Homo sapiens: one gene and its partners. The protein of the gene in region 2 interacts with the protein of the main gene of each other region in a pairwise test. Each region holds a gene or a part of one and is shown on either strand. Other genes may lie near its edges.

What was found.
Region 1: the proteins of TMPRSS2 (region 2) and STX8 interact in binary tests that used the Homo sapiens proteins (3 or more experiments, as listed by UniProt).
Region 3: the proteins of TMPRSS2 (region 2) and SFTPC interact in binary tests that used the Homo sapiens proteins (3 or more experiments, as listed by UniProt).
Region 4: the proteins of TMPRSS2 (region 2) and SLC38A7 interact in binary tests that used the Homo sapiens proteins (3 or more experiments, as listed by UniProt).

The regions. Positions count from the first base shown.
Region 1 is NC_000017.11:9,544,449-9,552,065, forward strand, and holds part of STX8 (syntaxin-8), read right to left. Parts: intron 835-7,617; coding exon 724-834; intron 1-723. UniProt on the Homo sapiens protein: Vesicle trafficking protein that functions in the early secretory pathway, possibly by mediating retrograde transport from cis-Golgi membranes to the ER.
Region 2 is NC_000021.9:41,504,610-41,512,222, forward strand, and holds the start of TMPRSS2 (transmembrane protease serine 2), read right to left. Parts: upstream 3,550-7,613; 5' UTR 3,472-3,549; intron 3,457-3,471; exon of another isoform or gene 3,396-3,456; coding exon of another isoform or gene 3,341-3,395; intron 1-3,340. UniProt on the Homo sapiens protein: Plasma membrane-anchored serine protease that cleaves at arginine residues. Participates in proteolytic cascades of relevance for the normal physiologic function of the prostate.
Region 3 is NC_000008.11:22,157,827-22,165,245, reverse strand, and holds SFTPC (surfactant protein C), read right to left. Parts: upstream 3,449-7,419; 5' UTR 3,418-3,448; coding exon 3,376-3,417; intron 2,673-3,375; coding exon 2,514-2,672; intron 2,167-2,513; coding exon 2,044-2,166; intron 1,811-2,043; coding exon 1,700-1,810; intron 1,364-1,699; coding exon of another isoform or gene 1,346-1,363; coding exon 1,205-1,345; 3' UTR 1,187-1,204; exon of another isoform or gene 981-1,186; 3' UTR 767-980; downstream 1-766. UniProt on the Homo sapiens protein: Pulmonary surfactant associated proteins promote alveolar stability by lowering the surface tension at the air-liquid interface in the peripheral air spaces.
Region 4 is NC_000016.10:58,681,229-58,689,497, reverse strand, and holds the start of SLC38A7 (sodium-coupled neutral amino acid transporter 7), read left to right. Parts: upstream 1-4,727; 5' UTR 4,728-4,781; intron 4,782-5,166; exon of another isoform or gene 5,167-5,319; 5' UTR 5,320-5,543; intron 5,544-8,269. UniProt on the Homo sapiens protein: Symporter that selectively cotransports sodium ions and amino acids, such as L-glutamine and L-asparagine from the lysosome into the cytoplasm and may participates in mTORC1 activation. The transport activity requires an acidic lysosomal lumen.

The DNA of each region.
Region 1 (7,617 bases), on a different chromosome or scaffold from region 2:
CCTCTGTGAGCCCCGGACCAGTCTTATTAGGACTCATGTTCTCAATATGCCAATTAAAAAAAAAAACAAAAAACTGCTTTGCCCACACAGAGAAGTAGTGACCTCAGGAGTTTAGAAGGCAGTTAACAAAGCAGAAAACTCAACCAAAGAATGCCAAAGAAATGTTCTGACTTCACCCACAGTCTCCCTTAGTATGTTCCACCCAAGATGGGATTCAGCTGAACATACCTGGTTTACTAAACCCAGAAAATTAACGAAAACTGGCCGGGCGCAGTGGCTCACACCTGTAATCCCAGCACTTTGGGAGGCCAAGGCGGGCGGATCACGAGGTCAGGAGATCGAGACCATCCTGACTAATACGGTGAAACCCCATCTCTACTAAAAATACAAAAAATTAGTCGGGCACGGTGGCGGTGGGCGCCTGTAATCCCAACTACTTGGGAGGCTGAGGCAGTAGAATGGTGGAAACCTGGGAGGTGGAGCTTGCAGAGAGCCAAGATCACGCCACTGCACTCCAGCCTGGGTGACAGAGCGAGACTCTGTCTCAAACAAACAAACAAAAATTAACGAAAACTAAATTGAGTAGAAAATTATAGTCAAACACCATAAATGAATAGAATAGATTTTGATTAATTCCTAAAGTAAGCCATTCAGGAAACAGCTGTAGTATCTGCAAAGAAGTCTTCGCCCACCAAGTAATCCCTGTAAATAAAAACATCCTACCTGATTAGATCTGGTTCGGCACCCTCATTCTTAAAGGATGCCAGAAGTAGTCTCTCTCGAGTTACAAGATCATCCAAGAGGTTCTGTCTTCGGTCCCCTTCAAGCTGTGTTCTGCAGATATCTTGTTAAGGTTCAATGGTGAATAAATGACCTCGTTTTAACTATTACATTATTAAGTTAGCTCTTCAAGTCAGTTGTGGCTTTTACAGACTGTAATCACTACTACCCAGAAGGGATGCGCACCACTCTTGCGTTTTTCCTGCTCTGACCTTCACCTTCACCAGGCCGTCAGGTAAAGGACCTTGGCAGGACCATCGCAGAGGCACTTATAAACACTGACGTGGATCATGACACAAGTTTTTCATTGAGAAATATACCAGGTAAATATTACTTTCCTCCCCGTGACCAAACTTATTTACTTATTTTTGAGACAGAGTCTCGCTCTGTCGCCCAGGCTGGAGTGCAATGGCGCGATCTCGGCCCACTGCAACCTCTGCCTCCCGGGTTCAAGCAGTTCTCCTGCCTCAGCCTCCCGAGTAGCTGGGCTTACAGACGTGCACCACCACAACCGGCTAAGTTTTGTATTTTTATTAGAGACGGGTTTTTGCCATGCTGGCCAGGCTGGTCTCGAACTCATGACCTCAGGTGATCTGCCTGCCTTGGCCTCCCAAAGTGCTGGAATTACAAGGCGTGAGTCACCACGCCCAGCCCCAGTGACCAAATTTAAATGACTTCTCCTGCCAATGGTGCAACCTGGCTCAGTGATTCCTTAGGTTTTGAGTTATATGTGTGTGTCAGTGTTCCAGGGCATTTTCCTACATATTAATACCCTAAGATGCTCTGTTTAAAAAAGTGGGGGCGCTGGGGGAGAGAAGTTCTCTATATTGCTCTCTTTCTTCCATGTTAATATCTATTAACACACCTAGGATATTTATAAAGTGCTACTTTATGCAACAGATTTGCTCTATAAATTGTTACCATCAGTTCACTATTTAAATACATTGCATGATTTGTAAAGAAAATTACAAAGAGAATCATTTTAATGTGTGAATCTAGCAAACACGCTAGACTAGGAGCCCCAGAGGCAGAGTTGTAGCCCTATTCCACTATCTATGCTCTTGAACCAGTTATTTCACCTTTTGGGATCTCTCTTTCTTTATATGTAACACTAAATAGTCTCTAACATCTTTTCCACAACAATTCATAAGTGATGGTTAAAAAAAAAAAACCAAACAACCATCCTTCTGGGAAATGTAGTCTTTGGAAAGAAACCTACAATTCACCAATAGGTGGACGAGAATGCGGCGCGTGCGCATGAAGCAAAAAGGGAAGTGGCGTCTGTCAACAACCGGCGCCACTTCCCTTGGACTAAGTACAAAGTTTTATATACTAGCTTTCTTGATGCAAACTACAAAAGTGGTTTTTTTTTTTTTTTTTTTTTTTTGGAGACGGAGCCTTGTTCTGTCTACAGGCTGGAGTGCAGTGGCGCGATCTCGGCTCACTGCAACCTCCGCCACCCGGGTTCAAGCGATTCTCCTGCCTCAGCCTCCTGAGTAGCTGGGACTACAGGCACGTGCCACCACGCGCAGCTAATTTTTTGTATTTTTGGTAGAGACAGGTTTTCACCATGTTGGCCAGGATGGTCTCGATCTCTTGACCTCATGATCCGTTCACCTCAGCCTCCCAAAGTGCTGGGATTACAGGTGTGAGCCAGTGCGCCCAGACACAAGTTTTTGTTTGTTTGTTTTTAGGCTGAACTGTGTCTATGTGTGTGGTATGTTAAGAAACACAGAAGGGCTGGACGCGGTGGCTCAACGCCTGTAATCCCAGCACTCTGGGAGGCTGAAGTGGGCGGATCACAAGGTCAAGAGATGGAAACCATCCTGGCAAACACGGTAAAACCCCGTCTCTACTAAAAATATAAAAACTAGCCAGGCGTGGTGGCGTGCGCCTGTAGTCCCAGCTACTCGGGAGGCTGAGGCAGGAAAATCGCTTGAACCCGGGAGGCGGAGGTTGCAGTGAGCCGAGATCGCGCCACTGCGCTCCAGCCTGGTGAAAGAGCGAGACTCTGTCTCAAAAAAAAAAAAAAAAAAAAGAAAAAAGAAACACAGTAAAGGATATGTTTGGAAACAACTTCTGCCATAAAATGAATGAGTGGAGAAAGCTAACAAACACTTTTAAAATATATCTGGCCAGGTGTGGTGGCTTACGCCTGTAATCCCAGCAGGTCAAGGCAGGTGGATCACGAGGTCAGGAGTTCGAGACCAGCCTGACCAATATGGTGAAACCCCATCTCTACTAAAAACACAAAAATTAGCTGGGCATGGTGGCGCACAATCGCAGCTACGCAGGAGGCTGAGGCAGGAGAATCACTTGAACCCGGGAGGCGGAGGTTGCAGTGAGCCGAGACTGTGCCACTGCACTCCAGCCTGGGTGACAGAGCAAGACTCCGTCTCAAAAAAAAAAAAGAAAAAAGAAAAGAAAAGAAAAGAAATACACACTAAAACAAGATACCACTTCCACCTATCAGATTAGGAAACTGAGAAGACAGTTTTGGAAAGGGACAAGGAACCAGACACTCTCATACATTCTTTCCTTTTCTTTTCTTTTCTTTTTTTTTTTTTTGTTTTGTTTTGTTAAGATGGAGTCTTGCTCTATCATCCCAGGCTGAAATGCAGTGTTGCAACCTTGGCTCACTGCAACCTCCACTACCTGGGTTCAAGCAATTCTCCTCTCAGCTCCCCAAGTAGCAGGGATTACAGGTGTCCACCACCACACCCAGCTAATTTTTGTGGGTTTTTTTGAGAGACAGGATTTCACCATGTTGGCCAGGCTGGTCTCAAACTCCTAATCTAAAGTGACCCTCCTGCCTCCCAAAGTGCTGGGATTACAAGCATGAGCCACTTCACCTGACCTTATACATTCTTTCTTTATTATTATTATTATTTTTTGAGACAGTGTCTCCCTCTGTCGCCCAGCCTGGAGTGCAGTGGCATGATCTTGGCTCACTGCAACCTCCAGCTCCAGAGTTTAAGCAATTCTCCTGCCTCAGCCTCCCAAGTAGCTGGGATTACATGCACATGCCACCATGCCCAGCTAATTTTTGTGTTTTCAGTAGAGATGGGGTTTCACCATGTTGTCCAGGCTGGTCTCGAACTCCTGACCTCAAGTGATCCACCCACCTCGGCCTCCCAAAGTGCTGGGATTACAGGCATGAGCCACCATACCCGGCCACCTCATACATTCTTGATAGGAATGCAAACAGGTTCAACCAACTGCTAGACTGCCTTCTAAATACCTAACAAAATATAAAAGGTACAGTCTTTCAACAGACATTTCTTCCTCAGATACAGTCCTACAAGGACTTAGAAGCAAGGATGTCCACTGAACCATTATTTATAATAGCCACATTGGAAATATCAATAAGTAACTAGTGTATGTAAACAATGGAATGTTTTGCAGCCTTAAAAAAAGAATAGGAAAGCTGTTTAGGGGGCTGATAATGATAATTAACATTTTTGAGCACTTACTAAGTGTTTACATGAATTATTTGACATGGAATAATCTACAAAATATAACATTAAACCAAAGGAGGGGAAAAAAACAGCAGCAGCAAGGAGCTAAACAGTGAGTAGTGTGCTCCCACTTTGTTAAAAAAAAATCCTAACTATATATGTGTGTATATACACACAGAAAATTTCTGATATATAAACATTGCCTCTAAGGAAGGACAACTGAGGATTAAGGGTATAAGAGAGACTGATGTTTCACTGAATATTGTTTCCTAATGTTTGTCTCTATCATCTGCTAATTAATAAAAACACAAGCTTCAGAACCATATGTATAATATAATCCCTTTATAGTCAAAGGAATTTTATGTTTACATATGCATATATTTCAAGCCTAGAAAAGTCTGAGATACTAGCTACCAACCATTAACACTTAACTATAAAGAATGAGATGAGACAGGATAGAATAAGGAAGAGAAAGAGGAGTCATTGGTAATAACTAATGAGAAATGTATCAGTAGAAAGTATAATATTTTTTGTAATAAAAACAATAAAGGTACATTTTAAAATCAGCAGATACTAGTTACAGATTTAAACTTACGTCAAGAAGGAGCTAACAAAGAACATCAGTTTCAGAAACAGTAAAACTTGATGACTATGTTTTGTAGATGAGTAACCAAAGAACAGAAACCCACACAGTTGATGCTAGAAGAGGCCTTAAAGATCCCAGTTCTCTTGTTTTGCTGACCAGAAATTAAGGGTGAGCATGGCTAAGTCACTTGCCTGGGTTAACAGCCATGCTAGGTGACAGCTCTTTCAACCCTAGCTCATGGCTTTTCCACCAAACATTCTGCAGACTTCTCCACCTTGAGATGCTGACTTAACTTTGCCACTTCTTAGAATCCTGATAAAAACAATACTGGGAGTACGAATTCAGAATATTCCCAGAGACTCTGTAAATCTGGAAAACAATCCAATTAGGAACATGCTGCCTCTTTGTTTTATATTTTAATCTACGGAGAGAACAGAGCATAAGGAGATGGGGAGGAGGGAGATGGAATGAGAATAAATTGATTAATGAACCATCTGCATAGCACCCTTGCTATGTAAGGGTTGTTATTAGTAAGAGGTCAAAGGATCATCCAGGAAACAATCTATACAGCATGTATGTGGACAGGTGCGTAGCAGTTGGGTAAAGTAGGGTAGTGGGGAAACAGTGTGCCTGAGTGATGCTAAGGACAAGTAGAAAGTAGGACACACAGGCCAAGCGCGGTGGCTCAAGCCTGTAATCCCAGCACTTTGGAAGGCTGAGGCAGGCGGATCATGAGGTCAGGAGTTCGAGACCAGCCTGGACAACACGGTGAAACCCCATCTGTACTAAAAAAATACAAAAATTAGCTGGGTGTGGTGGCACACGCCTGTAGTCCCAGCTACTCAGGAGGCTGAGGCAGGAGAATCGCTGGAACCCGGGAGGCAGAGGTTGCAGTGAGCCAAGATCGTGCCACTGCACTCCAGCCTGGGCAACAAAGTGAGACTCCATCTCAAAAAAAAAAAAAAGTAGTACAGCACACAGTCAGTGGCCAGTGCTGGGGAACCTCCTCTTCCACCAACCTGGTGAATAGCCAAGGAAGAAGATAAGAGAACAGACAGATAAAGAAAAGGAAGAGAAGAGCTAACTATCATAGTACTTTGTCCTTGGCTATGCTGATTGTACATGTAATTATAGCCAATTCATGGATATGTAAGGTTGTAAATAAAACTGGATCCCCTGTAGTCCCAGCTACTCGGGAGGCTAAGGCAGGAGAATGGCGTGAACCCGGGAGGTGGAGCTTGCAGTGAGCCAAGATCGTGCCACTGCACTCGAGCCTGGGTGACACAGCGAGACTCCATCTCAAAAAATAAATAAATAAAAATAAAAATAAAACTGGATCCTGATTTCATATTACTGATACCTACTACCAGCATGCATAAGTCCAGCTTCTCTGCTGTAGCCTGGTGAGCATTTGAACCACAGATGGAGCGGGGTAAATATGCAACTGGATCCACAGGTCACCCAATCCCACTCCAGCTCCTGGATTTTCTCTTATATTTGGTAGAAGGCTTAAGAATTTAGGCTGGGCACAGTCGCTCACACCTGTAATCCCAGCACTTTGGGATGTTGAGGTGGGTGAATCACCTGAGGTCAGGAGTTTGAGACCAGCCTGGCCAACATGGCAAAACCCCATCTCTACCAAAAACACAAAAATTAGCCAGGTGTAGTGGTGCACACCTGTAATCCCAGGTACTTGGGAGGCTGGGGTAGGAGAATCGCTTGAACCTGTGAGGCGGTGGTTGCAGTGAGCTGAGATCGCACCATTGTGCTCCAGACTGGGCAACAAGAGTGAAACTCCGTCTCAAAAAAAAATAGAATTTAGGTAAGCCTTATTTTGTGAAAGAGCTGCTCTGGCGAAGGAAGAAGTTTGCAGATAATTAATTCTCCATGCCAAAAAAGAAGAACTGCAAGGGAACAGTTTAAGGTTCTAGAGGTCAAAAGACTTTTCTGGCTTTCTTTTTTTAAGTCAACAAACTCTAATAAATATTTATGATGTACCAGGCCAAGTCCTTACCTTCCTCAAAGCACTGATCACATTTTGCAAGTACTATTTTAATACCATCATTGTTTGTGAGTTTTGACATAACCATCATGCATGATTAAAAACTCCACAAAGAAAGGATGACCTGTAAATTCTCAATGGTAGCTGAAATCTTTACAATAATGATAAAATAATCAATAGCAGCTAATCCTCAAGGAGGACTTAGTATATGTGAAGCACCCTGTATGCATATAATCTCATCCTTACACAACAATCCTTTACGCCAGGTGGACTTCTAGCATCCCATTCCACAAATGAGGCACAAAGAGGTTAAGTAACTTCCCCAGGGGTGTTGGTAACCACCTTTTATTCAACACCCACCATTATGGGGGGCTAGTCCTGTGAAGAAAAAAGATTTTCTTCAACTTGTACAATAACCTGGCAAAGTATGATTATTCCTACATTACAGATAATGAAACTAAGGTCCAGAAAAGCTGAACTGCTGTTTGGCCTTGGTAAGTGGCAGAGCTGGTCTTCAATCTCAGTTCTGTCTGCTTTCAGAGCCGATGTTGTTCCCACGATACCAATGGCACCTAGACATTCAGGTTTCGTGGACCAGTAATATGTCCAAAAAAACTAGGGGGGGGTGTAACTTATATAGAATTACCAATTATACATTTTGCCAGGTATGGATGTTCAAGAAAAAAAAAAAGAAACAAAACTATCTACTTTTACTATCATGGTGAAAAAGCAAGGAGATTTTAACACCAAAAACTAGAAAGAACCATGTAACAGTTCTGTATAAATCAGAA
Region 2 (7,613 bases):
CCTGTGTGCTCAACCAAGCTGCTACCCTGTCACAGATCCCCCTTTTGCTCCTCCTTGGGTGTCCACAGGCTCGGTGGGGCCAAGGTGGTCAATGGCCATGGGGACATCATAAGCCCCCTTCTTCACACCCAGGCCCATACCCCTGGTGCTTGCAAGTCAGGGCTTCCCAAATCACCCTTAGGGCCAGGAGGGGCCCCACAAAGGCTGACTCCATACAGGCCTCAGCTCTCAGGTACATAATGCTCCTGCACCCCAATCCTGAGGCCACGCAGTGCATCCCATATTGGAGGATCCCCTGGCAGGTGTCCTGGAAAGTAAGGAGGGGCGGGGAAGAGTAGCAAAGGCCTGGTGACTGTGGGATGAGGGACACTCAGGGAGTGCAGAGCAGGAGGGACCAGAGAGCAGAAATGCACCTGGGCCTTCAATGCTCCTGGGCTCTCTGGTTCCCCACAGGGAGCTCTCCCTGCCCTCACTCTCCCCACTAGCAAGGCCACTTTCCAAGTCTTCAGCAACCAAAACTGAACAAGCACTCCATTGACCATTCACCTTTCCTTTCTACCTCAATGTCCAAGGCTTAGATCTGATCAGTGCTCCCCAAACCCAGAATTTTCAAGAGGGCTTAGAAAAATAAATAAATAAATAAGATGCCTGGGCCCCATTCTCAGAGTCTGATGTAATAATTGGGACCAAGGCAATGATCCCATATTATTACGAAGATCCCCTAGGGAATCTTGCCGCAGATTCAGGTGGAAAAGGGTAAGAGTTATCAGCCAGACTTTTGGTTTACATTTCCTGGTAGGGGGACAACACACTCGGATGATGATGATCGTGGTGGTGGTGGTTACTGGCATAAGGTACTGCACGCATCTACCTTTTCACCTACAGGACATTTGCACCAGCGTCTTGTCACTCAATGCCCCCATGGCCTAGGAGGTCAGCCCTCCGCAGGCCCCCTTTCAGAGTTCCAGGCACTCTGGCCATGTCATACTGCTAGAGGGAGCAGCACGGAGCCCAGGTAGGGCTGTGGGCAGGGGCTGGGCTCTTTCAGGTCGGGGAGAACCAGAGCCTGGCCCAGGAACAAGCCCTTTTCAATCAGGATTCCGGGCGCCTTGTTTCCAGCTTCCTTCCCTCCTTTCCTCCACTTGCTGGTAACATTCCAACATCCTGGAGGGAGAACCCAGGGAAGGATCAAAAGGAATCCGTACTGTGCCGATTGTCACTAAAGCCCCTTCTAAGCATCCTGTGTCTCCAACTCAGAGCCCGACACTGGAAGCACTGACCTATGGAGCCAGACAGGCCATGTTTATCCCCAGTTCTGCCCCTTACAGGTTACAAGATCTTGGACAAGCTTCCCAACCTCTCTTCCCCAGTTTCCTTACAATTGAGTTAAGTACATTATAAAGGGTTTGCAATGATGCCTGGCTGAAAAAAGTGCCACATCAATGTCTGTGGTTATTATTATAATGCCAGTGCAGCCAAATATACTCCTACAATTAAGGTGACTTGAGTTCAAGATAGAGTGGCCAACGGTGCCAGGCAGGCCAGCACCTAGCAACCTGGGAGGCCCTGCCTGAGGCTCCAGCAACAGCACAAGCTTGTTGTTAGAAGGTTGTCCTTGGCTGGTGGGAATAAGGGAAGCTGCTGGGGACCAAACAAATGTCCAAGCAGAGAACAAAAGCCCAGCCAGCTCACCAGCTGATAATTAAAAATAACCAGAGGCCGAGGTGTAGATGGCCATCTCCAGGCAGAGGTCTCAGCCCGTAGGTTGCACCCCGAACTCTCCAGCCTAGTGTGTCCTTACCCGAGGGTGTTGCTAGGTTTCATTCTAACCTCACCTGTCCAGTAGTTCTGTAGCGGAGCAGGGCAGGTCCTACTTCTTCAAAAGCACTCAGTAAAGGTGGGGAAGTCCTGAGCAACCTCCAGTGACTTTCTGGGGGAGCTCCCGGTTACCTAGCCCACCAGGTCCTCCCTTCACAGCAGCAGCTCAGGAGCCAGGACTGACTTAGCTACTTGCGTCCCCAAGGCCCTTTGCGCTGGTAAACTCTCCCTGCCACACTCCCAACCCCCATCCTTCCTTCAGGGGAGGCTGGCTGCATCCCCACTTCCTGGAGTACCTTCCCAGATCTCCTGGGACAGGTCAACAAACTTAGTCTCACTTTAGGTTTTCCAAATGCCTTGTAACTGGGCTGCGTAGCCTTTGTAATTTTCCATGATTCGGGAGGTTCTCGCGGCTGGGAGCTCCGTGAGGTCAGGCATTGCCTTGGGCGCGATGCGCTCATCTTTCCCGCGGGACCACTGCACAGGTTCGCACGGAGGGAAGGGCTGCGCAGCCTCGAAGGCGAGCCCTGGGTGCTCCCTGCCCACAGGGCTCACCTCGGGCCGCCGTGCTATCCTTTCCTTCCCAAACAAGCCACCAGGATTCCTCGTGATTAGGGCTGCCACCAGGGCGTTCTGAACAGGATTCAGGGCCACCGCGCTGTGCTCTACGGCGGAGCGGGCGAAGGCCCTCCTCTGCCACAAGCGCTCAGGGCTCTCGGCGCACAAACTTTCTGGACATGGGGCAGTTTTTCAGCTGGACCCGTGCTCGAGCAGAGCGCCCACTGCCAGACTGGAGCACTTGACCACTCAGGGTGCCACTGTGCCGAGCCGGGCAGGACAGGATGAGGTGGACCGAAGCGCCCAGGTGCCCCGCCTTCCCCCCAACCCGGCACGGAGCGCAAGCGGAGGAGCCAGACCGGCTCCTCCCGGGCGGGTTCCTGCCGGTGCCGGGTGTCCAGGAGGCCCCGGCCCTGATCGCCGCCAGCGGGTCGCCGCAACGGGGCCTGAGTCGCGAGCAGTCCCTCCCCGAGACTGACTGGCCGTTCGCACCTCGCCCGGGGGCCCTCCAGCAGCCTGGCCCAGCGGTCCCCGCCGCGCCGGCCGTATCGTTCCCGGCATCTCAGCGAGTTTCCAGTTTCTCCCTACCTCAGTAGGGAACCAAGAAGCAGAAGGAGTTCAGGTAACACTGCGGGACTGCAGAGATTTCCCCCAAACAAAGAAGCCAACCGACAGCACTCCCAGTCCTCCTCCCCAAAGAGAAAAGGCGCACCGGTGCTCCCAGGCGGGGGCCGTGGAGGGCAGGCGGACTAGGAGCCAGCTTTGGGGACCCCGGGGGACTCTCTTCCACCAACTGGCTAGGGACTCGCAGGACCACCTGCCCCAACCTCGCGATGCCAAGCCAACAGGGGCGGCGAGGGCTCTCGGCCGTGCGCAAGGGGTCCCAGGCGCCCAGCACTCTCCCAGCACCCCGGGAGGCGCCCTGCCCGGCTGGCCCCAGCGCTCGACCCTCGGGCGCACTCACCTGCCGCGCCGCGCTCCTCACACCCGCTTTCACCTCCGGGCGGGGCAGGGGGCATCGGCGGGTCCCAGGCGCCCAGGTTCCCCTCCCCAGCCCGGACCCCGAGCCGGGACCCTGGTACCGGCGCCGCTCACCTGCCGCGCTCCAGGCGGCGCTCCCCGCCCCTCGCCCTCCGCCTCCGCCTCCGCCTCCTGCTTAGCTCGCGCCTACTCGGCCCGGCCCGCCCTGGCTCTCGCTTTAATCTCAGGAGGCGGTGTCCCAGGGTCCAGGGCGACACCCCCAAGCGGGTCGCGGGTCACCCTGGGCGGGCGGGGGCGGGGGCGGCGGGAGGAGGCGTTTCCCAAGGGAAGTCCGGGACGGGTTCCCTGCCTGGCTCAACCCCGGCTGCGGAGGGACCCATAAGGGACTCTGGGGCGCTTCCCGGGCCCGGCCACAGCGGCCAACCTGCCCCTCTCCGGTCCGCGGCGCAGCGCTGCCCGAGGGCTCGAGTTTGGGTTAAGGAAGGGGATTCTGGGGAGCGCTCCTGGAGTCCTGGGTGAGCCCCCGGAGCTGCTACCTCACGAGCTCCTGTAGGCGGCCGGCCCCGTCTTGGCCTCCGGGGAACCCACTGTAGCCTCTGGGCAAGGACCCAGGGTAGGCCTTGGGGACTGCTGGCCCAAGCACGAGTGGCGGGGACACAGCGCCGGACGCCCAAGACCCTCCCCAGTCCGCCTAGGCTGGCATTTCTTGGCCCCCACCAGCGTCCGGTGGAAAGTGCTCCCCCGGATGGTCCCAGGTCTCTCGGCACCACCGGCCAGGGCGGGAGTGAGGAAGTGGTGGGACACACCTCAGCCAGGAAGACGTGGCTGTTCCCGGGCACTTGAGAGGTTCTTTCTAATGTTTGCAATTGTGGGGGCTCAGAATTCACCAGAATTTAATAGGACCGTAGACCAGAATTCATCACCCCAAGTAGGACTGGAGGAGACCAGAATCTGCTACCCCAACATAGTCCTCTTTGGCACATTGATGATTTGGAACTGGTTATGTTGAGGAACTGCAGACACCAGAGTACCTCTGAGAAAATGCCCTTTTGTAAAGGAAATTTGCACCTATAAAGGAAATGTTTGTTAGTCAGCAGATCTGTACCAGGAAGAGAGCTGTTCCCGGACAACTTTTATCACCTGGGAAACTTTTATCTGCCTCACACGGCAACCTGCGTTCACCAGACACCTCCTCTCCTCACGCTCCCCTCACTCCTCCACCGCTCCCCAGAAGCCTCAAACCCCCATTTCTTTCTGTCACTCAGAGTGACAGATAAGCCTCAATCATCGGGCTGCTGCACCTTTTTTTTTTCGTGTGTTTTTTTTTCCCCCAGAAGGGGTCTCACTCTGTTGCCCAGGTTGGAGTGCAGTGGCTCAATCATGGCTCATGGCAGCTTCAACCTCCCAGGGCACAAGTAATCCTCCCACCTCAGCCTCCCGAGTAGCTGGGACTAGAGGCGTGTGCCACCACGCCCAGCTAATTTAATTTTTTGTAGAGATGGGGGTCTCCCTATGTTGCCCAGACTGGTCTCCAATCTGGGCTCAAGCGATCCACCTGCCTTGGCCTCCCAAAGTGCTGGGATTACAGGTGTGAGCCCTCGCACTGGACCCCTCACTCACCTGGCCTGTTCTTTAAGTCTCATATTCTTGTGGGATTCCCATCTGTGAGTACATACATTAAAACAGCTTTTCTCCTGTTCATCTATTTGATGCCAATTTAATTTGTAGACTAGCTGAACGAACTAGAAGGGTAGAGGGGAAGCATGTTTTCTCCTCCCCTGCATAATATACAAATCAACATGATTTGCTTTAAAATGAGGTGGAAGCAGAAAAAAGCCCCATTCAGTCCCATCCCAGGCTGCCTTGGCTCACTGCTCCCTTCCTGGGAAGCTCTCCCGGAAGCCTCCTGTGGGGCAGGACTTTCCTAGTAAACCCTTCCCTCTCACTCCCTCCTTTGGCACCTTTTGTGGTCTGCTGGTGGCACCCACAACAGGGATTGTCCCCAATATGCCCCAGCCCTCCCCATCCCCCACACTGCCCTGCGCTCTGCCCCAGTGGGAAACCCTCAAAGACCCTCTCCAGCACATAGGGCAGGTGCAGTTGTCTTTCAGCGGCAACTCACTTATTTCTGTCTTGACAGTGTGTTTGGTGCCTACTAATTCCACCCAGAAACCAGGGAGTAAGTGCTGCCGCAGACTCAGGCCTCTTGGAGTGGTTGTTCATTCACCATTTATTTTTCCTTTTATATTAATAATCAGGGTTCTCCAGAGAAACAGAAACAATAGGAGAAATACAAATATATACACACATATACATATGCACACACATGTATATACACACATCTATATTTCTATATATTATTTATAAATATTATAAATATCTTATATATTATAAATACATATAAATATATACATAAACATGTATTTTATATGCATAATATAATACAGATATGATATATATTATACACAGCTTATATGTAATAAATATTATTTATAATATATATAAAGATTTACTATAAGAAATTGACTCATACAATTATGGAGGGTGAGAAGCTCTACAATCTGCCATCTACAGACTGGAGACCCAGGAAAGCTGGTGTTGTAGCTTTCAAAGTCCTGAGAGCCAGAGAACTAGAGAGCAGATGGAACAGATTCCAGTCCAGGTCTGAAGGCCTGAGAACCAGGAGTGCTGAGGGCAGGAGAGGATCAAAGTCCAGCTCACACAGTCAGGCAGAGAGCAAATTCAACCTTCCTCCCCTTTTCTGTTCTATTCAGGCTCTCAACCGATTGCCCAAATTGAAGGCAATCAGCATTACACAGTCTTTTCAAACATTAATCTCTTCCAAAAACACCCTCACACGCAGACACCCAGAAATAATGTTTAACCAGTTACCTGGGCATCCCATGACCAAGTCAGCTTGACACATAAAATTAACCATGGCTGGATGCAGTGGCTCCCACCTGTAATCCCACCATTTAGAAGGCTGAAGTGGGAGGATCTCTTGAGCCCAGGAGTTTGAGACTAGCCTGGACACCATAGCAAGATCCTGCCTCTACAAAAAGTTTATTAAAAATTAGCCAAGTGTGGTGGTGCGCACCCGTAGCCCAAGGTACTTGGGAGGCTAAAGTGAGAGGATCAGTTGAGCCCAGGAGTTTGAGGCTGCAGTGAGCTTTGATTGTGCCACTGTACTCCAGCTTGTATGACAGAATGTGACCTTAGTTTTATCTAAGCATGAATATATATGCCACCATAAGTTGACCCCTTGTCGACTTCACACCTACACATCTCCTTACACCATACTTTATCTCTAAAGACAATAGCAAAGTAATAATTTTGCCTAATGTGATAAAACTCTTCTGCATACAACCAAAAAATGCACTAAGCCCTTCCCCAGAAGTGGATGTAAAATTCTCCAGTGTTTACACTTCTCCTTGGTATTCCATAACTTAAATACCATAATGTAAAATTAACAATACTTAATACAATGATATAAAGTCAATATGCCTTAAGTTATGTAATAAAGGAATATGAGAGAAAAGACAACAGAGATATATACTGTATATACAAATATGTGCACAAATGTATTTAGAAAAAAATAATGAGAAAATACTCGTGACAATCTAATGCTTTATAACAGGTTGCATGGGCAATAGCTGGTGTTTGTAACTGTCTTCTTCCACTACCCACTCTGCGTTCCCTCTGCCTTCGGGAAGCATGACAGCTGGTCATGGTTCTTAACCTGATGGAGTGATACAAACCTTCATTCCTCAAGGGTCTGGGCCATTAATAGCCCTGCCTGGATTGTGTTGTAGTTTTCCATTGACCTTAATCACAAGCATGGTAAAACTAAAAGATGCCCTAAGGAATCGTTGTATTCCAGACACACTCTTCCTTACCTTCCTGGTGGAGTAGAAGTAGTCTATAGCTTCTCCTTGGTAGTCCAGATGGGTCTCCCCAGCCAATGCATAACTCTCTCTTTGCCTTTTGATTCAGAGGCATGTGGAGCTCAGCGTGGCCAGGTGGCAGTCGTAAATTCTAGTTTAATTGAATCATTGTTGTGTCTCCTGGTGGCAGCATTCCTCCCTCCGGAACTAAGACCTCTAGGTCAGCAGAGCGTAAAGTCACAGAAACAGCAAGCGAAAATTTTGCTAGTGGGCCACTTGGAGTAATAGTGCGTGGTGCCACTCCCATTTCCACCCCTTGATTCCTGGACCAGTGAATCCTGGCTATGGGAGAAACAGCACCGCATATTGGAT
Region 3 (7,419 bases), on a different chromosome or scaffold from region 2:
CCCGCTCGGTCCGCGGCTCCGCGCTCGTCCTCGGGCTCCAGCCGTCTCCCTCTCCCTTTCCTTCTTTTTCTCTCTTTCTTTCTCTCCCTCCCTCCCTCCCTCCGACTCCCCCCCCCCTTTTTAGGGAAATGAGCTCGCTGGAGGGCGGGTTTTCGCCCGAGCTCTGCCCCCCTCGGGGCCGGGACAGTGCTCGGCCGGGCCGGGCCGCGCGCCAGCCGGGGCGGGGAAGGCGGAGAGCCGCGCGCCCGGGGAGGGGGCTCGGGCCGCCCGGGCCGCGGGCCGCGGGCCGCGAGGCCGGGGCTGGAGCTCGGGCCCCGGGGTGCCGGGAGGGCTGTCCCTCCTGAAGTGCCCTCTAGCGGCGGCCTCCCCCGCGGGCGCGCGGCCGAGCCCCCGCCCCGCCGCGGGACACGCTGTCAGGTCCTCGCGCCGCCCCTGCCCCGCGCCCCCGCCTCGGGTCGGTCTCTCCGCCCGCGTCTCCCTATCTCCCCTTCTTGGACCCTCGCTCTCTCGCGTCTCGCTCTCTGCGCTCTGTCTCTCTCGCTGTCTTGGTGTCTCTCCCTCCTCCGGAGACGCCGCTGGAGGGCGCCGAAAGCCCGTGGATGGCTCCCTGCGAGCCCCTCTCCCCCGCCGAGGTGGACCCAGTGCCCCAGCGCCCTGGGACAGAGGGCGAATGGCAAACCCCACTTTGCTCTCCCAAGGCCCTTCCCTTCTTGGCCGGCCCCCGCCAGGGCAGGACTGCGCCCTGCAGGAAGACAGAAGCAGACCCTTTGCTTTTCAATCAGGCTGCTTTATTCTGTTGTGGCAGGAGTTCCCGGGCCCCTGGGCGCCACCTCTGCCCACTCCCATCCTCTCCCCAAGCTCCCATTTCTCCAGGGCTTGTCCCTGCGGTGTGGGCAGAAGCAGCTTCTTGCCCGTCTGCAAAAGCTGCAAAAGACCCTTTGCCCGGGGCGTTTCCTTTCCCGTTGGGGCTTCCACTGACCCTGTGAAGCAAAGGAATGTTGAGGATGGACAGAGAGAATCAGGGGAGTGGGAAGTACCGGTCTGTGAGCTTCCCCTCCCCCGAGTTGCCTGGATGACCCCGCTTCAGTGGACGCCCCAGCGCCTGGTCAGCGCGAGCGCTCCTCCACAGCCCGGGCAGGTGGCCCGAGCGCTCCTCCGCTGCTGATCAGGGGCCCTGGGATCACACCTGCTCACCGGAGGCGTCCTAGATGTAGTAGAGCGGCACCTCGCCACACAGGGTGCTCACGGCCATGCCCAGGAAGGCCGGGTCCCCTCCGGAGGGTGCTGAGCCTGCATCTCGCCCCTCTGCCTGGCCCAGCTTAGACGTAGGCACTGCGGGCTTGGCCTGCAGAGAGCATTCCATCTGGAATGTAGGAAGTGAGTTTCTATCCCATGTGCAGCCCTTATTGTGGGACTTCAGGTATATCAGGCAATCTCTCTGAGCCTCAGTTTTCTCATCAGTAAAGAGGGGCTGTGCTAGAGTCAGAAGCCACCAGGTAGTGAGTGGACTCAGCTGAGCCCAGCAGCTTGGCAGTGGGGTGGGAAGGAAAGGAGTCGTGCAGGGGAATAGGAGAGGGGCAGTCAGCTGGCAGCCAATGAGGAACAGTGCTTTACAGGTGACAAATAGCCACCATTCGGACACTCCTCCCAGCAGCCCTGGGAGGGAGACAGCCCACTCTTTTCACCCACACACACACACCTGGAAGTTGTGGACTTTTCTAGTGAGAGCCTCAAGACTGGGGATGCTCTCTGGAGCTATCTTCATGATGTAGCAGCAGGTGCCAGGGGCTGGCTTGTAGGCGATCAGCAGCTAGGCACAGAATGCTGGAGATCATTCGGGGGTCCCTGCCCTGCTCTCTCCCTGACCCAGGTCCTTAGCCACCTCCCTCTAGGTTGGGCACGGGAGTCATACTAGAATCTGGGGCTCAGGCAAAAAAGGTCTGGAGGAGAGGGAGAGATGGATGTGGATGAAGTGGCCCAGCTGGGTGGCTCTAGCAGAGCCTTGTCATTGGTCCCAGGGTCAGGAGGTCTGGGCATACCCACCTGCTGGTAGTCATACACCACGAGGCCAGTGGAGCCGATGGAGAAGGTGGCAGTGGTAACCAGGTGCTCACTCAGGGCCAGGCGTTGCTGGGCTTCCGGCGCCCCAATGCTCATCTCCAGAACCTGGGGAAAGGGCATGGAGCCACCTGGTCTTCCCCTTTCCTACTCAGCCAGTGGTACCCATCCCCATACTCAGGCCTCTGTACTCAAATGCGCTTCCCTCTTTCCCAAGAGTTCAGGGAGGCTGAGTGGAACCAGGTGCTGGAGGGAGCTGGCTGTCCTGCTGCGGGGCAGGGGCCTTGTGGAAAAGCCTGAGCTGGGTTGCTGCCTGGTTCGTGCCTCTTTCCTTCTAGCTGTGCCCCTTGCCTCCTCCCCTCCACTCCCCTTGGACAGTTTCCTATCGCCCATCCCACCTAGCCCCGCTGTCTGGCATGTCCTGTGCCCACTGCTGTGCATCCCACACCTCTCACCATCTCCGTGTGTTTCTGGCTCATGTGGAGACCCATGAGCAGGGCTCCCACAATCACCACGACGATGAGGACCACCACCACCACCACGATAAGAAGGCGTTTCAGGTGCACTGGGCAGCAGGGAATGCCAAATCGGCCCCGGGGAGCTGCGGAGTAGTCCTGACACGGTGGGGCAGGCAAGGAGACAGGCATGAGGTCATGAGGCTGTCCCCTCTTCTCCCTATACAAGCTGAACACCCTCCCACGGCTGCCTAGGGCTGGACAGCCGATGCGATGGATGGACAGGGAAGGGCTGAGGAGATCAGAGAAGGCTTCTTGGAGGAGGTGGCCTGGATTCTAACAAACCCATAGACACATAGAAGCTTAGAAGCAGGGTCTAGTTTTGAGGGACCCAAGAGAGCCTGCTTCACCTGTCTCTCCCTGCTGCTTCCCCCAGCCATGGTCAGCCCCTCTCTCTCCCCAAGTGATCACCTCCATGCGGTGATACAGAGTCTCCCTCCTTCCTGGAATGCCTTCCTCCTTCTCCACCGGGCGAGCTCCTCCTTATTCTGGCTCCAGCTCGTATGTGGTTTTTCTCTGAGAAGTGTCCCCTGACTTCTGAAGTTTCTCATGGCTTCTGACTCAGGGCTGTCTACGGACAGCCCTTTCTACGGACCCCTATAGTGGCTCTTGGCCCACAAACAGCTCCCCAAGGGTCCCTGGCTTAGTGGTCTTGGTGTCCCCATCCTGACTTATCACAGTCCTAGGTTAGTTGAGTGAATGGATCTGGATAAGGAAACAGGCCAGGGAGGATAGAGGAGGCAGGGCCCATCACACACATGTGCGCGCGCACACATACATACACACACGCAACCACACTCACCGGCGGGCTCTCCATCAGGACCTCTTTGCTGCCCACATCCATCTTGCTGCAGGTGCTATGCTCTCCTCTCCTCCTCTCCCAGGTGTGACCAGGGTCTTATATGTGTCCGTAGGGAGAGGGGACAGAGGTGAAGGACCAAGCCCCCTGTGTGCCAGCCAAGCCCTTGGCTTTGAAGCCTGTTTGTTCCTGGCCCTCCAGAACCGAAGCCCAGATAAGCCCCCTGTGAGAGCCCCCAAGGGCCCTTGGCCCTGGCACATGAGTCCTCTTGGCCCCAGCAAGAGCAAACCTGGGTGAGTTGAGCAAACTTGCCCTCGGGCCATCTGCACTTCTCACCATGGGTGTCTTCCTGGCGTGCCTGCCTTCCTTGCTGGCACCTGCCCCTGCTGCCCTGTGGCTTTCCTTTTTCTTCTACCACCCTGAACCTTTCAGGTGGCCAAGGGTCTGACCATCATATTTCCCAGCAGAATTTCTAGATACATAGGGATGCGCTCCAGGAAGAGGGTTCTGGAGGCAGCACCTGTAGACTCTGAGAGGACTCTGCCCAAGGCAGGAGGTGCTTTGACATCAGTTTTCGGGGTTTCATAAATGTGCATTTCCCTGCAAGGACCAGTTCCAACTTCAAGTACTCTTTCCCTTACCTTGCCTCCTCCCACATATCTGGTACCAACCTCAAACTTGCCCCCAGTGATTATTTTCCTAATTCTGGAAACTCTGTCCCCACTGGTGGCAAGCTCTTACTCATGTGCAGTGCTTCCTTCTTTGCTCTGGGCTTGTCTGTCAATTGCAGGCTGTGCTGATGGCAGATTCCAGGTCTGACACTGCTTTCTTCTGCCCGGACAGCCCTGAACAGGGCTGGCTCTGGTCACTGGTGGGCTCCCAGTCTCCCCATCCTCGAATCAGCTCACTCACCCTGTGGTCTACACTCTACCCCTCTAGACTCCCCTTTCTGCATCCTCTGATCCTAAATTTGCCCTGAGAATAATACTCACCCAAATACGATCAGCTTTGAGGACTGTCTCCTTCTCTTTTCTCTGTCTTTCCTAGTGCCTTCCCAAAGCCATCTCTATGTATTTACGAGGTCAAATCTGCCAATGACTTTGGGCTGGCTCACCCTTTCTCTCAGGTTCCCTTTCACTCCTTGGGCCAGGTGGTCTCTAAAGTCCCTTCACCTCTAAACTCAGGTGACTGTGGCAGAGTCCAGGCCTGGGCTCGCTCCCTTAACCTCCTATCCTTTTGTTTTGTTTTGTTTTGTTTTGTTGTGAGACAGGGTCTCACTTTATCACCCAGGCTGGCATGCAGTAGCGAGATCACTGCTCACTGCAGCGTTGACCTCCTGGACTCCGGTGATCCTCACACCTCAGCATCCCAAGTAGCTGGGACTACCAGTGCATGCCATTGTGCCCAGCTAATTTTTGCTTGTTTTATAGAGATGAGTTTTCACCATGTTGCCCAGGCTGGTCTCGAACTCCTGGGCTCAAGTGATCTCGGCCTCCTAAAGTGCTAGGATTACAGGTGTGAGCCACCATGCCCAACCAGCCTCCTGTCCTTTAACATGCCACCCCAGTTCCTGTCCCCTGCCCCAGCCCCCTCCCACCTGGGCCCTGCCCTTCGGTCATGAGCTGGCAGGTTCCCCTGTCCCCCTCTCCATCTGGAGGGCCTTCAGCCCCAAGGTTGCATAACAGCATGGCATCTGAACTGAGAGCCCCTGAGAAGCGCAGGGAGGAAGAAAGGGAGGGAAGTGTTTGCTCCCACCACCCTCCTCACCCCCTTGCTGCCCCTTTAAATATTTGCCTAAGACTCCAGCAGCCAGAGAGTGTCCTAGGACAGTGAAAGGAGGGGAGGGGTGCCGGGAGGAGGGGGAGCCCACAGAAGCATCCTCTCAGCTCGGCCTCAGCTGTGTGCAGGTGCCAGATGTGGGAGACAGCTCGCCTGCAGTGCCCACCCCTGCCCTCCCCCAGGGCCCTTACTCCCGCCCCCATCATCCTGGCAACATTGGGATTGATCGGCTGACTCACGAGTACTGGGCCTGAGCCAGGTGGGCAGCTGGCCAGCGGGAGAGCCAAGCACTGCAGGCATCTCGGGGTCCCTGTGGGCATCTCGGGGGGCCATGTTGTTCTCACGTGGGACTTGTTCTTAGCAGGCACTGTGGGTGGGGTTTGCCGCCATCGCTGGGTGCTGGGAGAGGGATCTCTTTCTTTGAAAAAGCCTCTGCTCTTTCTGGTCCTTGGTCTCCCCTGCCTGTTGCCCTTAGGCTGTAGCTGTCACAAGCTCTGTGGCGGCTGCTGCTGCTGCTTCTTCTCCTTCTTTTTTTAAACCCATTTTTGCTTGCTTGAGGGCTGAGGGAGGGTGCCTGCCTCCTGGAGTGCTCACACCAACCAAGTGAAGGTCTTGGGTTCCTTGGAGAAGGAGACACAGAAGGACCTTTAGCTGGGTGTGCCAAATTTCCCCCTCCCCCTACCAGCCCTGTCTGCAGCCTTCTCACTTTTTGGCCTGTACTTAAGCCGTTTCTCCCTCTGTGAAAGCCCACCTCCAATCCCTCTCCACTTCTCCGGTTTTATTTTTATTTTATTTATTTAATTATTTAGAGACAGGGTCTCACTCTGTTACCCAAGCTGCAGTGCAGTGGTGCAATCACAGCTTCATAGCTCACTGCAGCGTTGATCTCCTGGCCTCGTGTGATCCTCCTACCTTGGCCTTCCAAAGTGCTGAGATTACAGGCGTGAACAGTGCATCTGACCTTCCACCTCTCTGAATGCCACCCACCCAAACAGGCCAAGAGCCAATGGCACCTGCTCTGCGACCTCACTCCAGTTCATGGTGCCCTCTGAAATCCTCAGCCTCTCTGTGGCACCTTCACCTGCCATTCAGCACACATGAATGTTCCCATGAGTTACATGGGCGCTTTTTGTTGCTCTATCTTCCAGCCCAATTGCGGGCCCTGGGAAAGAAAGGAGCACGCTTCCTGCGGGCTTCTTTGAACCTGCCACTGGGCAGGAAGCATGCAAACAGCCAACACTTAATGATAGTCAATGATGAGACCAATACCAACAGCGGTCAATAGTCCATGCCTTCAGTATGTGGAGGTCTCAGTGCTTCCACTGGCCAGCTCTGGGACCCAGCGTGAGTCGTTCTGCTTTGTTAGGCATTAGTATGTTCATCTGTGAGATGGGTCAGGTACTAGCTGTCCACCTCACTATGCTATTATGAGGACCTAATAGCATCATGGGTGTGACATCCAGTCATCCTCATTAGCATCATCTACTTCATCCTCTAGGGGACCTCTCACTAGCTAAGAACACAGCCCAGACTCACCCTCTTTGTCTGTTTCTGGGTTGACTCCCTCTGAGAGCCCTGAGTGATGGACAGCCCCACGGTGGCCACCCCTTCTGTGTGGGCCTCCCCGTTTCCTCCTCCAGCCCCTCAGCTGCAGGGGTGGGGACAAGATTCACTTTGCTCTTTGTGTACTGGGCAGAGCCGTGCCAGGGACGGGTGGGGACAGTTGCCCAGCTGCCCCAGCCACCTCCCTACCCTCACTGCTTCCCTCCCCCCAAGCTGGCATGGGGAGGGCGGCTAAATGTGTGGCAGCAAGGAGACATCAAAGGGCAGGGGCATCCCTGGCTGGGAGAACACAACTTAAGCTCAGACCAGAGAATCCCCTGCTGGCAGAGTCTGGGGACAGCTGGGGAAGCATCTTAAAGCCAGTGGTCTTCGTTCCCTGGACTGGTGTGCAAAAAGCACAAGACTAGAAGCCCAGGCAGCTGACAGCCAGGCTCCCCTTGCCCCGTGCCTATGAGCTCTTAGGACAGTCATCCTCCGCCACAGGGGAGCTAACGTGGTAGAGAGCAGCAGTCTTCAAGCTTTTTGTTTTCAGGACCCCTTAACACTCTCAAAAAGTATTGAGGACCCCCAAGAGCTTTTGTTTATGTGGGATATGTCTGTTGATATTTACTGAGAAATTACATTTTTATTTACATGTGAATTTAAAATATCAGTAATAAACCCAATATAGGTTATGACATAAATCACATTTTTAATGGAAAAACG
Region 4 (8,269 bases), on a different chromosome or scaffold from region 2:
TAGAGCTAGTAAATAAGTTCAACAGAATTGTAGGGTGTAAGATCAATATACAAAACAGTTGTAGGAGTAGCACAGTGTCTCACACCTGTATTCCTAGCACTTTGGGAGGCTGAGGTGGAAGGATTGCCTGAGCCCAGGAATTCAAGACTAGCCTGGACAACACAGCAAGACCCTGTCTTTGCAAAAAATTTAAAAATTAGCTGGACATGGTGGCACACATCTGCAGTCCTGGCTACTTGGGAGACTGAGGTGGGAGGATCACTTGAGCCCAGGATTTTGTGCTGAGCAGCAGCCTGGGCAACAGAGCAAGGCCCTGTCTCTAAAATGATAATAATAATAATAACAAAATACTTTTTTTTTCTGAGACAGAGTCTTGCTCTGTCACCCAGGCTAGGGTGCAGTGGTGCAATCTCGGCTTACTGCAACCTCCACCTCCCAGGTTCAAGCAGTTCTCCTACCTCAGCCTCCCGACTAGCTGGGACTACAGGCGCATGCCACCACACCTGGCTAATTTTTTTGTATTTTTAGTAGAGACAGGGTTTCACCGTGTTAGCCAGGATGGTCTAGATCCCCTGACATCGTGATCCACCCGCCTCAGCCTCCCAAAGTGCTGGGATTACAGGCGTGAGCCACCGCACCCGGCCAATAAAATAATTTTTAAAAGGTTAAACATAGAGTTACCATCTGATCCATCAATTCCACTTCTACATGTATACCCAAGAGAAATGAAAACATATGTCCACACAAAAACTAGTCCATGAGGGAGGCCGAGGTAGGCGGATCACCCAAGGTCAGGAGCTCGATACCAGCCTGGCCAACATGATGAAACCCCATTTCTACTAAAAATACAAAATTAGTTGGGCGTGGGGGTGGGCACCTGTAATCCCAGCTACTCGGGAGGCTGAGGCAGGAGAATCGCTTGAACCCAGGAGGCAGAGGTTACAGTGAGCCAAGATCATGCCATTGCACTCCAACCTGGGCAAAAAGAGCGAAATTCCATCTCAAATAAAACAACCTTGTACATGAATGTTCACAGCACCATTATTCACAGTAGCCAAAAAGAAAAAATAACACAAATATCAACTACTGAACAGATAAAAAAATGTGGTGTAATGAGAAAAACACTGAATTGTACGAAAAACCTTCCCCCAAACTTGGAGGCAGTTGAGAGACCAGAGAATGACTCAGGCAAGTCCAGCTTGGCGAGTAGATGAGTTTGAGGACTTACATACGGGACACTCCTTGACAGCAGCAGGACAGTGCTAGAGATCCGCGCCACCTCCCATCTCTAAGCCATTTTTAAGCTAATTTTCTAGCTCTTTGCCTACTGCGTGTATGCAGTGGGACTGTTTTCCTTGGTAGATTCTCAGATCCTCTCCAGGATGTTTGAGTTCTCAGGAATATCTGCTCCTAGGCTGGGCACCATGGCCTTGGCTCACCACCCAGCATTCAGGATTCAAGCAGTGGATATACACCTCCAAGTAACCTGATGGGGGACCTGCCACACTACATGTGGTATAGCCATACAACAGAACATTATTCAGCAATAAAAATGAATGAAATACTGGTTCATGTTCCAACTAGGATGAGCACTGAAAACAGTATGCTCAGTGAAAGAAGCAGACAGAACAGGTCACATATTGTGTGACTCAATTTATATGAAAGGTCAAGAATAGGCAAACCCACAGAAGCAAAGAGTAGATTCAGAGTTGCCAGGGGCTTGGTGGAGGGGGAGATGGGAAGTGACTGCTAATGGGTTCAGGATTTTAGTAGGGGAGGGTGATCACAATATTCTGAAATTAGATAGTGGTCATCATTGCACAACTCTGAAGAAACTAAAATGCACCTTATTGGACTCTTTCAAAGGGTGGATTTTATGGCATACGAATATCTCAACAAAACTATTCTTATTTTTTAAATTTTTTTTTCCAAGGCAGAGTCTCACTCTGTTGCCCAAGTTGGAGTGCAGTGGCGCAATCTCGGCTCACTGCAGCCTCCACCTCCCAGGTTCAAGTGATTCTCGTGACTCAGCCTCCTGAGTAACAGGGATTACAGACATGCACCACCACACCCAGCTAATTTTTGTATTTTTAGTAGAGACAAGAGTTTCACCATGTTGGCCAGACTGGTCTCGAACTCCTGACCTCAAATGATCTGCCTGCCTCAGCCTCCCAAAGTACTGGGATTACAGGCATGAGCCACCATGCCTGGCCTCAATAAAGCTATGTTAAAAAAAAAAAGGCAGACAATTCAAATGTCCTTCAAAGAGTGATGGGTAAGTAAACTGTGGTACATACATACCACTGAATACTACTCAGCAATAAAACCTATCTGTGTTGACGTATATAGCTTAGATGAATCTCTTCTAGGGAATTTTACTGAGTTAAAAAAAAAAAGGCAATCTTAGAAAATTACAGACTGTGTGGTCTATGAACTGAATGTTTGTGTTCATCCCAAACTGATATGTGGAAACCCTAATCCCCAACGTGATAGTATTTGGAGACGTGCCTTTGGGAGGTAATTAGGTAATTAAAGCCCTCATGATGGGATTAGTACTATTTTTTTTTTTTTTGAGACAGAGTCTTACTCTGTCACCCAGGCTGGAATGCAGTGGCACGATCTCGGCTCACTGAAACCTCTGCCTCCTGGGTTCAAGCAATTCTCCTGCCTCAGCCTCCTGAGTAGCTGGATTACAGGCGCATGCCACCACACCCAGCTAATTTGTTTTGTATTTTTAGTAGAGATGGGGTTTCACCATGTTGGTCAGGCTGGTCTTGAACTCCTGACCTCATGATCTACCTGCCTCGGCCTCCCAAAGTGCTGGAATTACAGGCGTGAGCCACCACACCCAGCCGCAGGATTAGTTCACTTATAAGAAGAAACAAGACCAGGCATGGTGGCTCATGCCTGTAATCCAAGCACTTGGGGAGACTGAGACAGGAGGTTCACTTGAGCCCAGGAGTTTGAGGCCATTCTGGGCAACATAGGAAGACCTTGTCTCTATAAAAAATGAAAAGTTAGCTAGGCATGATGGCACGCATGCCTGTAGTCTCAACTATTTGGGAGGCTGAAGCGGGAGGACTAGTGGAGCCTGGGAGATGGCGACTGCAGTGAGCTGTGATTGCGCCACTGCCCTCCAGCCTGGGCAACAGAGACCGTGTCTCTAAAAATAATAATAATAATAAAATAAATAAAAATAAGAGAGAGTTTACTTTCCCTCTCTGCTTTCCGCAATGTGAGGACACAGCAGGAAGATGGCCATCTGAAAACTATGAAGATGGTCCTCCCCAGAACTTGACTCTGCTGGCATTCTGACCTCAGTCTTGACAGCTTCCAGGACGGTGAAAAATAAATCTCTGTCGTTTAAACCACCCAGTCTATGATACTCTGTTATAGCGGCCTTAACTGATTAAGACAGTATGATTCTATTTTTTTTTTTTTTTTTGAGACAGAGTCTCACTCTGTCTCCCAGGCTGGAGTGCAGTGGCACGATCTCTGCTCACCGCCACCTCCGCCCCCCGGGTTCAAGTGATTCTCCTGCCTCAGGCTCCCGAGTAGCTGGGACTACTGGCGTGCACCACCATGCCCAGCTAATTTTTGTATTTTTAATAGAGACAGGACTTCGCCATGTTGGCCAGGCTGGTCTCGAACTCCTGACCTCAAGTGATCAGCCCGCCTTGGCCTCCCAAAGTGCTGGGATTACAGGTGTGAGCCACCGCACTCAACCAGTATGATTCAATTTATATAAACTTTTTGGAGGCCAGGCACGGTGGCTCATGCCTGTAATCCCAGCACTTTGGGAGGCTGAGGTGGGTGGATCACTTGAGGTCAGGAGTTTGAGACCAACCTGGCCAACATGGCGAAACCCCATCTCTACTAAAAATACAAAAATTAGCTGGGAGTGGTGGTGCATGCCTGTAATCCCAGGTACTCGGGAGGCTGAGGCAGGAGAATCACATGAACCCGGGAGGCAGAGGTTGCAGTGAGCAAAGATCGTGCCACTGCACCCCAGCCGGGGAGACAGAGTGAGACTCTGTCTCAAAAAAAAAAAAAAAAAAAAAAAAAAAAAAGGTGTGATTTGGGTTTCTAAGGATTCCCAGTGTGTCCTCATCGGTGAGGACCTCTGATGCATGGAGAGGTAAGTGCAGTGGAGAGCATATCCACAAAACAGAGATGAGGCTATTGGGATGCTGGAGATTACGTGACAATTTATGAGTGACACACAGCCAAGAACAGAACCAGGACTGGATGCCCATTTCGTCATTCAACAAATATTTACTGAGCACCTACAATCCCTCAAAAACTGTTCTAGAGTCTAAACCGATGGGGTCGTAACCATGCCCCCAGCCCACTCCCTTGCAGGAAAGACCGTGGCTCCAGGTCCCCCACATTACTGATTAAAAAAAAACTCCAGTGCTCTGGCCATGGGCGTGAAGGCAAGGACAGAGACCGGGAGGATAATGAGGCCAAACAGCTTTGGCCCACCGCCACCGGGACTGGCAAAGAGGCCAGACCTCCTAATGCTCTTCCTTGGAGGAAGGAGCAGTGTTTGATTTGGTCAAGAGGCCAAGACTAAAAGTAAGAGGATAAACACGAGCTGGCTGGACGCGAGGCTGGCTCAGGGCAGTGCTGTCGGGCTGAGGATTCAGGGAGCTGGTGTTGTCCAAGCTTCACATTTGCGGAAACTACAACTCCCAGCGTGTCCCGCGGCCGCCCGAGCGGGCGTCATGTGATGCATGCTCACGTGTCTCCGCAGCCGGCTCGGGAAAGAATCCCCCAAGGTAGGTGGCCGGAGACAGGCTCTGGAGGGTGGAAGTGTTAGATCCCCGAGGTCTGTGGAGCCCCTCAGTCCCCGCCACCGCGGAAAAGCTCAGACCCTTTCCCTGCAGGGGTCCAGATCCTGGCGTCCTCGCCCCACGCCCGTCCCTCTGTTGCGCCAGCTCTGCCGCGCCTTTACCCAGCCAGAGGGTCTCCACCCAGTCCTAGGCCGGGATCGGGTCCCGGAGCTCCTCCCCAGGTTACCCCACAGTAGCCCACCCTTCTCGCTCCAGGCCTGGGAATCGCCCCGCCCCGGCCTCCTGGCCCGGGTGCGCCCTGGCTCACCTCACAAAGCCTCACCTCACAAAGCAGCCCACCCTTTCTATCTCAGGGCTCCAACCCCAGGCTGGACTGGGAGCACACTCCAGTTGGGATCTGAGGGGCCTACATCGCTGGCCTGAGCATGTGGGCATCAGGCTTCTATTCTGGCTCTGCCAGCTACCCACTGTGACCTTAGTCTAACCTCTCCCTCCTGGGCCTGTTTTCCTATCTGTCCTGAAGCTCCATTTCATGAGTAAGCGTGAGAGCCGCTCAGTTTCCTCCAGCTCTGCTGAAGCCAGCACAGAAGTAGCCCAAACTCTTCCCTCTGCTGACAGCAAATTTTAGGCAAAGTCTTGAGAAAGAAGAAATTGGGTCCAGAAAGGGAAGTGAGGAGAATCAGATCCCAGACCTTTGGGGAGAAGGAGCAACCGCCTCTGGCACAGCCCATCAGGGAGAAAGAGCAGGTAAGGTGCAACAATGAGCTGAGTAATTTGCCAGTGAGCAGTGGGGGTGCCGAGAGGTCTTAACCAAGGCAGAGAATCTGCAAGAGGTGGGACCCCCAGCTTCTGAGTTCCACGAGGACCCCAGCCTGCACTCTCATGTGGGTGGCAGGAGAGGCTGGAGGATGGTGCAGGACTCGGGCAGGGGTGCCCAAGGGAAACATTTTGGTTGGAGAGTCAGGAAGCCGCACCAAGCCTTGTGACCTTGGACGAATCACTCTGTAGACCTCTGTCTCTGTGACGTGAGCAGCGGGGAGGAGATGGTCACAGCTCTGGCAGTGGTCACTTTGCAGGGTTCTTTCTCTAGCTACACTGGAAGCCTGGGAGTCCCAAGACTCTGCCTTCGCTGCTCACTGCTTTGATTTTGCTGAGTTGCTGGTTGGGTGACAGGATGTGTAAGAGGATGTGTAAGCCCTGTGACATCTGACAGATCTTTCTGGGTTTCGAGCCAGCAGAGGAATGTTTCCTCTGGTGCCATGTCCCTTGGTTCCATGCTTGATAACAGATGGCTGAGAGCACATGAACTTTCACCCTTTCCCTCTCATGAGTGGATGGTCCCCAGCTTTGTTTGTCCATCATCAGGAGGAGCAATGGGAAGTAGTCCAAGGGGTCTTGTTAGTCATTTTAAACCCCCAGTGGGCTGAAGGCATCAGAGAGGGTGGCCCAATGGTTAGGGCAGTCATTATGGCTGAATATGCTCAGTTCCCTTTTTTTCCCTCTGGGCTATAAAGACTAAACCAGGCTGGGGGCTGTGGCTCACGCCTGTAATCCCAGCACTTTGGGAGGCCGAGGCAGCAGGATTGCTTGAGCCCAGGAGTTCAAGACCAGCCTGGGCAACATAGTGAGACCTCCTCATCTCTACAGAAAATTTAAACATGACAGGCGTGGGGGGCTTGTCACGTGGGAGAAGTCACATGGGAGAAGAGTTGAGAATTGGCCTGAATTTTGAAAGGCCAATTTTGTTCCCCACAGGAACAAAAAATTTAAAAAGTTGGCCAGGCGTGGTGGCTCACGCCTGTAATCCTAGCACTTTGGGAGGCCAAGGGGGATCACAAGGTCAGGAGTTCAAGACCAGCCTGGCCAACATGGCAAAACCCCATCTCTACTAAAAATACAAAAATTAGCCAGGCATGGTGGCGGGCACCTGTAATCCCAGCTACTCAGGAGGCTGAGGCAGGAAAGTCTCTTGAACCCGGGAGGCAGAGGTTGCAGTGAGCTGAGATTGTGCCATTGCACTCCAGCCTGGGTGACAAAGCAAGACTCCGTCTCAAAAAAAAAAAAAATTTTAAAAGTTAGCTGGCTGTGGTGGCACACACCTGTAGTCCCAGGTACTCGGGAAGTTGAGGTGGGAGGATTGCTTGAGCCTGGTAGATTGAGGCTGCAGTGAGCTCTGATTGCGCCACTGCACTCCAGCCTGGGCAACAGAGTGATACCCTGTCTCTAAATAAATAAAGACTAAACCAGGGAGGGAGTAGAGATTAAAATGGAGTTTTGTATGAGTACCGTGAAATCGGGACTCAGGAATGAGGAGACTCTAGGAGAAGGAGTCTTTGGCAGATTTCGCCAGCCTGGGTGGTAACCAGCTAATAGCAGCCTCTGGGGAAGACTGCCCTGGCTCCTCCCTGCCCCCTTAGTTCCTGCCCTTGAAATCTGGCCTTCTTCCTGCTCTTTCTCCCATTAGCTATCCCAGGGCCTCTGTGCCCATTGTTACCTGGCCAATAGCACCAGGCTGTGGTTTGAGTTTTGTTTGTTTGTTTGTTTTGAGATAGAGTCTCACTCTGTCGCCCAGACTGGAGTGCAGTGGCGTGATCTGGGCTCACTGCAAACTCTGTCTCCTAATTTCGGGCGATTCTCCTGCCTCAGCCTCCTGCACAGCTGGGATTACAGGGGTGCACCACCACACCTGGCTAATTTTTGTATTTTTAGTAGAGATGGGGTTTCACCATGTTGGCCAGGCTGGTCTCAAACTCCTGACCCCAGGTGATCTGCCCACCTCGACCTCTCAAAGTGCTGGAATTACAGATGTGAGCCACCACACCCGGCCCAGGCTCTGGTTTTGATCAGTGTTCTGCTCCCTGCTTGCTTAGGGCTGGAGAGTCTCAGGCATGGTGGTGGTGGGCAACATGGGAAGGGGCATCTGCAGAAATAACAGCAGCAGTGACCATTTATTGAGTCTTAAACCCTTACTGATATTAACACACGACCCACAGGAACATATGATGTAAAGGCCTAAAGGGGCGAAGTGACTTGCCCAGGGTCACACAGATAGGCAGCGGAGGAGTCAGCATTCTGACGGCAGAACCTACTCGGAGACCCAGATCACAGCCCTGCCCAGGGCTGCTCTTGATCTGGGGGTGGACTTGATGCTTTAGGACCATCATTTCTCTGCGGGTCTCAGGCTATGAGCTGAACCTTGAGAACACTGAAGATCCTTTTTCAGGGCTGGGCTCCTCAGAGCCTCTCGAGATTCTTGGAAGAAAAAAAACTGCATCTCAATTGTGTTTATCCAGAGAGCAAAGAGAATCAGTCAGGTGATAAGCCTGTTATCTGAGTTCTGCCATACCCAAGGTACCATCTTGGACCCAGGAGTGGGGCAGATACAAACAGATGGATGCCCTATGGTCAGACAGGCCTGGGTTTGAATCCCAGCTCCACCACTGACCGCCATATGACTGAGGGGAGAGTGGTTA